Linked DNA regions of Homo sapiens. The protein of the gene in region 2 purifies or fractionates together with the protein of the main gene of each other region. This does not show direct contact. Each region holds a gene or a part of one and is shown on either strand. Other genes may lie near its edges.

The links.
Region 1: the proteins of SLC27A1 (region 2) and PBXIP1 purify together in Homo sapiens (co-immunoprecipitation; 3 studies listed by BioGRID and IntAct, with this or other methods). This does not show direct contact.

Annotation. Positions count from the first base shown.
Region 1 is NC_000001.11:154,943,459-154,946,271, reverse strand, and holds the end of PBXIP1 (pre-B-cell leukemia transcription factor-interacting protein 1), read left to right. Parts: coding exon 1-700; intron 701-1,154; coding exon 1,155-1,248; 3' UTR 1,249-2,192; downstream 2,193-2,813. UniProt on the Homo sapiens protein: Regulator of pre-B-cell leukemia transcription factors (BPXs) function. Inhibits the binding of PBX1-HOX complex to DNA and blocks the transcriptional activity of E2A-PBX1.
Region 2 is NC_000019.10:17,494,430-17,501,722, reverse strand, and holds part of SLC27A1 (long-chain fatty acid transport protein 1), read right to left. Parts: intron 4,469-7,293; coding exon 4,259-4,468; intron 1,446-4,258; coding exon 1,319-1,445; intron 1,229-1,318; coding exon 1,091-1,228; intron 1,012-1,090; coding exon 847-1,011; intron 451-846; coding exon 304-450; intron 1-303. UniProt on the Homo sapiens protein: Mediates the import of long-chain fatty acids (LCFA) into the cell by facilitating their transport at the plasma membrane.

The DNA.
Region 1 (2,813 bases), on a different chromosome or scaffold from region 2:
ATTCTAGGGAGTGGAGTGGAAAGGAAAAGTGGTGGGATGGGCAGAGAGACCGGAAGGCTGAGCACTGGAAACATAAGAAGGAAGAATCTGGCCGGGAAAGGAAGAAGAACTGGGGAGGTCAGGAGGACAGGGAGCCAGCAGGAAGGTGGAAGGAGGGCAGGCCAAGGGTGGAGGAGTCGGGGAGCAAGAAGGAGGGCAAGCGACAGGGCCCGAAGGAACCCCCAAGGAAAAGTGGTAGCTTCCACTCCTCTGGAGAAAAGCAGAAGCAACCTCGGTGGAGGGAAGGGACTAAGGACAGCCATGACCCCCTGCCATCCTGGGCAGAGCTGTTGAGGCCCAAGTACCGGGCACCCCAGGGCTGCTCAGGTGTGGACGAGTGTGCCCGGCAGGAGGGCCTGACTTTCTTTGGCACAGAGCTAGCCCCAGTGCGGCAACAGGAGCTGGCCTCTCTGCTAAGAACATACTTGGCACGGCTGCCCTGGGCTGGGCAGCTGACCAAGGAGCTACCCCTCTCACCTGCTTTCTTTGGTGAGGATGGCATCTTCCGTCATGACCGCCTCCGCTTCCGGGATTTTGTGGATGCCCTGGAGGACAGCTTGGAGGAGGTGGCTGTGCAACAGACAGGTGATGATGATGAAGTAGATGACTTTGAGGACTTCATCTTCAGCCACTTCTTTGGAGACAAAGCACTGAAGAAGAGGTGGGCAGCTGTGGGGGAGTTGGGTCGGGTGGGACAGAGGCAGTCGGGAGGATGTGAAGAGCAAGGATCATTAGTTTGAGTATCCTTACTTTTGGTCCCCAGCTGGCTTCCCTTAGAGAAGGCATTCAGGTCCGCTTCCTTTCTTCCCTTGAGGGTAGGAAGCTGCCTGTGCCCACCCCAGAGTGGTCCTGAGCAGTCCCCTTTTGGGCAGGGGGATTCTTTCTCCTGAGTTGCCCTGCCCTACCTCTACCTGCATGGCCCAGGGGACGAGGGAGATCCCCATCTTCCTGTCTCCCCGACTGGAGCCTTTATCCTGGGAGACCAGGTTTTTCCCACATATGCTTGGTGGTGCCTGCTCAAGTCAGCTTCATTGGGAGGAGCAGGGTCCTCTCTCCTTGGGGAACCCGTTTTCATTGCATGGTATTGTCCCCTAAAGGCCTCTTCCTCCCCACAGGTCAGGGAAGAAGGACAAGCACTCACAGAGCCCAAGAGCTGCGGGGCCCAGGGAGGGGCACAGCCATAGCCACCACCACCACCACCGGGGCTGACACCCTGCCCCACAGGGAATGGCCTTGGCCTGGCCCAGCCCAAGATCCCAGCGTTATCTAACTCCTGGAGGGTGGACTCTGTCCTGGCTTGTTTGGTGTCCTCAGATATCTTTCACACAGTAGAGCAAAATCACCAGCCCTGCACTGATGTCACTTTATGTAGAAAAAGGCCTTAGCTGGACCTGCGTTGCCGTCTATGCAAATGCATGCAAATACTCCAGGCCCTGGGATGTGGGCTTGTGTTTTGTCACTGTGAAGGGGGAGATGGGAGAGGAGCCTGTTTTGGGGTGGGGTCTGGGGAAGGCAATCTGATTCTGAAGCTAAAGAGCTTTCATCCTCTTGAGTGTATGTCCCCATAGTGGGCCCCTTGACCCACATGCTGACCGGTGCCTTGGGATTTGACTAGAGTTGCTGGCTCGAGGCCCAGCACGAGGACTTACCCTGGGGTTTTGTTAGGTTTGGAAGCAGCTGTCCCTAGGGGGTGAAGTCCCCCCCCTTTTTTTTTTTACCCCTGCTTCTCCCACGGCTTCACCTCCCTATGTGAACTGTAGACTCAGATCCCAATAAAGTGCTGTTGCAGCTATGATGCTAGGTGGTTTCTAAGCACAGGGGACACCCCACACCCCCTGCCTGAATGGATGGGTCCATCCCAGGCACTGGTACTTGCCCCCTTGTTCTGTATCCCCCTTTGCCCTTGCCTTGCCCTTCCAACAAACCCTAGGCCCTTGAGAAGCTGATACTTCTCCTTTTGCTCACAGCTGCCTTGGCCCCACCCCTGGGAGATGTAGCAAATTGAGTGTGGGTTTTGGAGTCTGAGCCTCAGGCTCAAATCCAGGCCAAGTGATCTTGGGCAAGTTAATCTCTGGGAACTTTGGGTTTCTTATCCTCAAAAAAGGCGATGGAAGGGCTGGGGAAGTGATTAAATAAAAGCAACGCAAGAAAAATGCCTCTCCTGTTTTGGGCACTCAAAAGTTATTGCCTTCTTTAGGGAAGGGTGTGGAGGAGGGAAAAGAACCCAGGCCCAGAAGGAAGAGCTTCTGGGGCTGGGGAGGTGAGGGAACCACTAGGTGGCACCCTGGCTCCATTTTGCTCCAGACCTCGCCTCTCCCACTACTCACTGTCCCCAAAATCTCAGACCCTACCCCACTGACCCCAGCGCCTGCTCCACTGGCCAGCTCTCCCAGGATGACCAGACTCCCCTTGGCTATTCTCTAGGAAGTCCTTCCTGAGATCTAACCTTAGTCCCTTCGGCAATACACTGGGCTTTTTGATGACCCTGGAAATGCCCAGGAAGTACAGGAGACAGAATAATGTGGTGTGACTGCTCAGGCAGGAGGCGGGGGACTACAGGTTCTAGAAGGGGCTGTAACTGATTTCTGTATTATTTAGCAAGCGAATATGTAACTCTGTTTAAGGGCTTAAAGGTATTAGTTCATTGAATTCATGTGTGGGTGGGGCAGGGGTTAGGGCAGGCTGGGGATGGAACAAGGACCACTAATTCAGCAAACATTTATAAAGTCTACTGTGTACCAGAAACAGAGAGGCACTGGGAATACAGAGGCACC
Region 2 (7,293 bases):
CATGCCATTCTCCTGCCTCAGCCTCCCAAGTAGCTGGGACTACAGGCACCCGCAACCGTGCCCGGCTAATTTTTTGTATTTTTAGTAGAGACAGGGTTTCACTGTGTTAGCCGGGATGCTCTCGATCTCCTCACCTCGTGATCCGCCCGCCTCGGCCTCCCAAAGTGCTGGGATTACAGGCGTGAGCCACCGTGCCTGGCCCCGGCCAGGTATTCTTTTAGAGCAACACAAAATGGACCAAGACATGAATCAACAGACACACTGATGGATGAAGAGAGAGATTGGAGTGGGGGAGACTCGCACCTGTGGTGTCCACCTGGGGCAGGAGGCGCAGGAAGATGGGCCGGGCATAGGGTGCCAGCACCTTCTGCAGCTCCTGGTATATCGCGTTGGGGTCCAGCAGGCTGTGGGGGTCTGCGACGGCCGCCATCCCTGCCTTACCCTCCACTCCTGGAGGCAGAGGCTCAGCTGAGGACACCCCGCCTCTCATCCTCCCCACCAGCAGGACCAGATACACTGTCAAGCAGTAGCCCCTGGTCTGTAATCTCCAGTCTCTCCCAACCTGGGATGACATTTATGGAAGCAGCCACACATTTTGTGGAGCTCCTGCTTGGCTCATTGAAGCCCTAAGACAGGTGGGCTTTCATGATCCCATTTTCTGGATGACAAAACTGAGGCTCAACATCACCCAGGTGAACTGGCTCCAGATCCAGTGCTTCCTCCTGGGCTGCCATGAGCAGTTGTCCAGGTTGTGCACTGCCCAAAGGCATGTGTACTTCTAAGCCCCTTTTGGCTGAGCTCCCTCAGGACCATGCCTCAGGACCACCCCCTGCAACCCCAGCTTGCCTGGAACAGCCACCCCATAGACGGCCACGTCTGTCTGGCCCAGCAGGCGGCTCAGCACGCCCTCCACCTCGGTGGTGGAGACGTTCTCCCCTCGCCAGCGGAAGGTGTCCCCGCTACGGTCCCGGAAGTACATGTAGCCCAGCTCATCCATCACTAGCACGTCACCTGGCAGAGGGGAGAGGGGCAGATGGGTGGAGGATCCCCATCCGCACAGCCAGTCACCGGGGCCTAGCAGGCTGCGCACCTGAGAGGTAGGCGCTGTCGCCCTTGCTGAAGACGCTGTGGGCGATCTTCTTGCTGGTGGCGCTCTCGCTGACATAGCCATCGAAGCGGCGCAGCGGGTCCTGTTGGTTGATCTGACCCACAAGGAGGCCAGGCTCCCCTAGGGAGAAGGCCATGTTCAGGCTGCGCTAGGCAGGCAGGGCGTGGGGACCCCTGCTCCGGGTGGGGACCATGCGGGGGCCCTGCTCACCGGCCTGGCAGGGGATGCAGAGGCCCTGGGCATCCCGCAGCAGCTCCATTGTGTCCTCATTGACCTTCACCAGCCGGATGGGGTACACGTGGGGCAGGATGCGGCTGTTGAAACCACAGGAGCCGACCTGGAATGGGGTGAACTGAGTTGGAAGGAGCCGGGGATATGCGGGGTCCTTCTCAGTAACACTTTGCCTGCCTTGCCCTGGGGCTTGGACCTAGCACCTCCAGTGTCATTCTAAGCTCTGTGACCTTGGCTGATCTGCAAAAGCAGGGTAGTAAGCGTCGCCTCCAACTCAGGGCCCCTCCTCCCACCTTCCCAGCCTGCATTCAGTCAAGAGAAGACCTCTGGCTGGCACCCACTTCCTGATCCACAAAACCCTCCATGCTGGCAGGAAGTAGATGCCTCTGTGTGGACACTACAGCTACGTCAGACACTGCAGAGCTTCACCTGCTGCCCGCCGCCCTGCTTGGCATGGTTCTATGAACAGAAATGCTTCTCCAACATGTTTGAGCCACTACACCCTGTCTGGTGTGTTTCTTTCTGCTTTTCCCCCTTCCTCCGTTCCTCCCTTCCTTCCTTCCTTCCTTTTTTTATAGAGTCTTACTCTGTCGCCTAGGCTGGAATGCAGTGGCGCAATCTTCGCTCACTGTAACCTCTGCCTCCCACGTTCAAGTGGTTCTTATGCCTCAGCCTCCTGAGTCTGGGATTACAGGCGCATGCCACTGAGCCCAAACAATTTTTTTTTTTTTTGTATTTTTAGTAGAGATGGGGTTTTGCCATGTTGGCCAGACTGGTCTCGAACTCGTGACCTCAAGTGATCCACCCACCTCAGCCTCCCAAAGTGCTGGGATTACAGGCGTGTGTGGGTGGCAAGCTACCCAGGTGCCGAGGCAAGAGACCGAGGGCACGAGCCATTCCAGTATAATAAAATATATAAAACAACAAGAGTTATACTAGATCTAGATCATAGACATGATTATATATGAATATCATTAGTCATCAGTTTGTAGCAATTACTCTTTATTCCAGTATTATAATAATCCTCGCTCTGTAATCATAACCTAGAAAAAACCGGGCCATAGAGAGATAGGAGCTGAGGGGACACAGTGAGTAGTGACCAGAAGACAAGAGTGCGAGCCTTCTGTTATGCCCGGACAGGGCCACCAGAGGGTTCCTTGGTCTAGCGGTGACGCCAGCGTCTGGGAAGTCTAGTCTAGCGGTAGCCTTAGTGTCAAGGAAAAACACCTGCTACTTAGTGGACCGGGAAAGGGAGTCTCCCTTTCCCCCGGGGAGTTTAGAGAAGACTCTACTCCTCCACCTCTTGTGGAGGGCCTGACATCAGTCAGGCTTGCCCACAGTTATCCGGAGGCCTAACCGTCTCCCTGTGATGCTGTGCTTCAGTGGTCATGCTCCTAGTCCGCCTTCATGTTCCATCCTGTACACCTGGCTCTGCCTTCTAGATAACAGTAGCAAAATTAGTGAAAGTACTAAAAGTCTCTGATATGCAGAAATAATGGCATAAGCTGTCTTTCTCTCTCTCTCCCTCTCTCTGCCTCTGCCTCGGCTGCCAGGCAGGGAAGGGCCCCCTGTCCAGTGGACGCATGACCCACGTGACCTTACCTATCATTGGAGATGACTCACACTCTTTACCCTGCCCCTTTTGCTTTGTATCCAGTAAATAACAGTGCAGCCAGACATTCGGGGCCTCTACCGGTCTCCGCCTCTTGGTGGTAGTGGTCCCCCGGGCCCAGCTGTCTTTTCTTTCATCTCTTTGTCTTGTGTCTTTATTTCTACAATCTCTCGTCTCCGCACACAGGGAGAAAAACCCACCGACCCTGTGGGGCTGGACCCTACAGGCGTGAGCCACCGTGCCTGGCCTGGTGTGTTTCCTATGCAAGAATCTGAGCTACAGTGAGCAAAAGTGCCCTGGGGGCTGGCCATCCAACACCAAGCACACTGAGGAAGGAGCATTGTTCTTGGCATTAAGGACCCAGCCCCCATGGCACTTGCTGTTTTTTTTTTTCCTTTTTAGAGACACAGAGTCTCACTCTGTTGCCCAGGCTGGAGTCCAGTGGTGTAATCATAGCTCACTGCAGCCTCGATCTCGTGAGCTCACGTGATCCTCCCGCCTCAGCCTCCTTAGTAGCATTGACTACAGGCACCTGCCACCATGCCTGGCTAATTTTTTATTTTCTGTAGAAAAGGGGGTCTCACTACATTGGCTATGCTGGTCTCAAACTCCTGGGCTCAAGTGATCCTCCTGCCTCAGCCTCCCAAAGTGTTAGGATTACAGGTGTGAGCCACTGTGCCCAGCCGACATTTGCTTTATGATCATTATTACGGTCTGTTCTTGGCCTTGGATGGGAGGGGCTTGGGAAAGGAGAGGGAGATTCATGCAAGCGGAGAATGGAGATGATTAAGAGAGTAAGTAGTTGCTAATTATGAAGGTATCTGTTTGCTGCTACTTGGGAGGCTGAGGCAGGAGGATTGCTTGAGCTCAGGAACTGAAAGCTACAGTGAGCTATGATCACGTGGCTGCACTCCAGCCTGGGCGACAGAGCGAGACTCTGTCTCAAACAACAACAACAAAATAACAGCACGGTACACAGAGCCCTATTCTCCTTGCTAATCTCCACACGCAGAAACTGAGGCTCAGAAAGGCTGAGGCACTTGCCAGGGCGCACAGCCATACCTATCCTCCAACTCTCCTGACCCAAGGACCACAGTCACATGACTATCTGTGCAGGCTGCAGGATTGTCCCTCTGGTGGTGCACCGGGAGTCCCAGGAACTCCCCTTACACCCCGCCCTGCGTGCGCCTTGGCGGAGCCTTCCGCGCCAGTCCAGGCTGTTTTATGTATCCCAGGGGCCCCAGGAAGAGGAGACAGTGGTCTTCCCTGAACTCCGAGACCTGCCCCGGGGCCCTGCCGGTGTGCACCTTGCCGTCCATGTTGGCAATGCTGCAGTTGCACTCGGTGGCGCCGTAGAACTCCCCGATTTGGCGTACGCCGAAGCGCTCCGTGAACTCCTCCCAGATGGCAGGACGCAGCCCGTTCCCCACCGCCAGGCGCACGCGGTGTCGCCTCTCCGCCTCGCGCACCGGCTGCTTCAGCAGGTAGCGGCAGATCTCCCCGATGTACTGAACCACCTGGGGGACGGGGTGAGGAAGTGGGTGATGGGACCGGCAGGCGGTGGGGAGCCCGGATCAGAGGAGAGACCCCGAGACCGCCCCACCCAGGGAGCTAATCCTATGAGCGGAACAGCCTAAGGATGATGATGGCTGCAGAATCGTCCACACTCCATTAGGGACCACATTGACTCCTAGGACTCGTTCAGTCTCTTGCAAAGGGTCTAGGATGCAGCTTTTTTTGTTGTTTTTTGGTTGGGGGTCTCCCTGTGCCGCCCAGGCTGGAGTGCAGTGGCATGATCACAGCTCACTGCAGCCTCTAACTCCTGGGTTCAAGTGATCTTCCAGCCTTAGCCTCCCGAGTAGCTGGGACTACAGATTTTTTTGTAGAGATGGGGGATCTCGCTCTGTTGCCCAGGCTGGTCTTGAACTCCTGGCCTCAAGCAATCCTCCTGCCTCAGCCTCCCAAAGTGTGAGATTCCAGGTGTGAGCCACTTGTGCCTGGCCGGATGCAACTTCTATCCAAGCAGATGCAGTGTCTTTCCTCCTCCCCCTACCCGCACCCCTTCGTGGTCCCTCGATTCTGCCAAGCAGCTTCCTGGAGATACCACATCCCTGTCTGAGCCTCAGCAGGCACACAGGGCAGGACTAGCAGGAGAGCTGGCACCCCGCAGGGCAACCCTCAGCCTGGAGCCTACACTGTCACCCAGAGCCCCCTGGCTGAGCCTGGGCTGGCCGGAGCGTCACCCCTGGGCAGACCACTCCCAGGTGCACCCACTAGGCTGCGCTGCGTCTGGACTGAGCCCCAGGTGCCCACGGAGCCACCTGCTCATGGGCTCCCCCTGCAGGACATCTTCCCTCCCTGCCACACATTCTCAAGCCCCGCAAGAGCTTCCTGGGGTCATCCACCAGGTGCCCCACGGTGCCTTTAAGAGTTCTCATCTCCAGTTGGGCTTCGGAATGACTCCCCCCCCGCCACTTTACAGATGGAGAAACCGAGGCTCACAGATGGTAAGGAACTGGAACGAGATCACAGAGCTGGGAAGTGGCAGAATTTGATTTGAACCCAGGCATCCCGGCCCCAGAGTGGGAATAAAACAGTTGCATGCCAGGGATTACCCACCAGATGGATCATAACAGCTGCAAATGTGCTCGGGGCTTCCCGCTCACACACAGGATGAAACCCACATTTCTTCCTGTGGCCAACTGGATCTGGCCCTGCCGCCCCTGCTGCCTCCTCTCCCTCCATCTCCGCTGAACACTCTGCCTCCTCAGGGACTTTGCACATGCTAGCCTTTTGCCTGAAGCAGTCTTCCCCCAGATGCATTTGCCTGAACTCTTCAGTCTCAGCTCAAACGTCACTGAGAGGCATCCCCTGTGCCCCCAGCTGTGCCCCTGAGAAGGTACTGACTAAATAGCTGATGACTAAACCAATATGATCAGCAGACACCACCGCCATGCTCTGAGCTGAGCTTGGAGATGAAGGCACTGAGGCCCAGAGAGGAAATGCAGTGCACCCAAGATCACTGGCTGCTGACCAACAGCAGGTCCCTAAGGGGGAGGGTCCTCTCCCTCCATTCTCAGACTTGGGCCACTGCCTTAGGTGTGGTACAGCCCACACCATCTCTAGGAGAGAACCTGGCCAATCAGCCCAGCCCCTCCTCAGCCAATATGACTGGCTTAAGAATGGGCACGGCCAGGCGGGGTGGCTCAAGCCTGTAATCCCAGCACTTTGGGAGGCCAAAGCAGGTGGATCACGAGGTCAGGAGATCGAGACCATCCTGGCTAACATGGTGAAACCCCGTCTCTACTAAAAAATACAAAAAATTAGCCGGGCGTGGTGGCACACTCCTGTAATCCCAGCTACTCGGGAGGCTGAGGCAGGAGAATGGCGTAAACCCGGGAGGCGGAGCTTGCAGTGGGCCGAGATCGCGCCACTGCACTCCAGCCTGGGCGACAGAGCGAGACTCCATCTCAAAAAAAAAAAAAAAATGGGCACATGGCTGGGCGCGGTGGCTCATGCCTGTAATCCCAGCACTTTGGGGGGCCGAGGTGGGCAGATCACTTCAGGTCAGAAGTTCGAGACCAGCCTAGCCAATGTAGTAATACCTCATCTCTACAAAAATACAAGAAAATTTTGCCAGACCTGGTGGCATGTGCCTGTAATCCCAGCTACTTGGGAGGCTGAGGCAGGAGAATCTCTTGAACCCGAGAGGCAGAGGTTGCAGTAAGCCAAGATCGCTCTATTGTACTCCAGCCTGGGGACAAGAGTGAGACTCCGCCTCAGAAAAAAAAAAAAGGCAAGGATTTTTACAGACAAGCTAGCAGGGAGGCTGTATCTGATCTAAATAGACCGTGAAAAACCGGTGAGGACCAGATGTGCCATCCGCATAGGGCGCAAATCTCTGGCAGCCCCCAACCCAATCTCTTATTATGCAGGTGAGTAGCTACTCTACGTTGCCTATTTTTTTTTTTTTTGGAAACAAAAAATCCTCGGTAGAACTTCCCTTCTAACAAAAAGCAGCCCAAGAAATCACTTATTTTCTAACAAAGAACAGCCTGGAAGATTGGGCTGCAAACACAAATAAGGAAGCTGGAAGCTTGCAGCAGGGGATGCCAGCAGCTGCACCGATAAAAAGGGCTACCTGTGGCCGGGCACGGTAGCTCACGCCTGTAATCTCAGCACTTTCGGAGGCCAAGGTGGGTGGATCACCTGAGGTCAGGAGTTCGAGACCAGCCTGGCCAACATGGTGAAACCCCATCTCTACTAAAAATACAAAATTAGCCAGGCGTGGTGGCACACACCTGTAATCCCAGCTATTCAGGAGCCTGAGGCAGGAGAATCA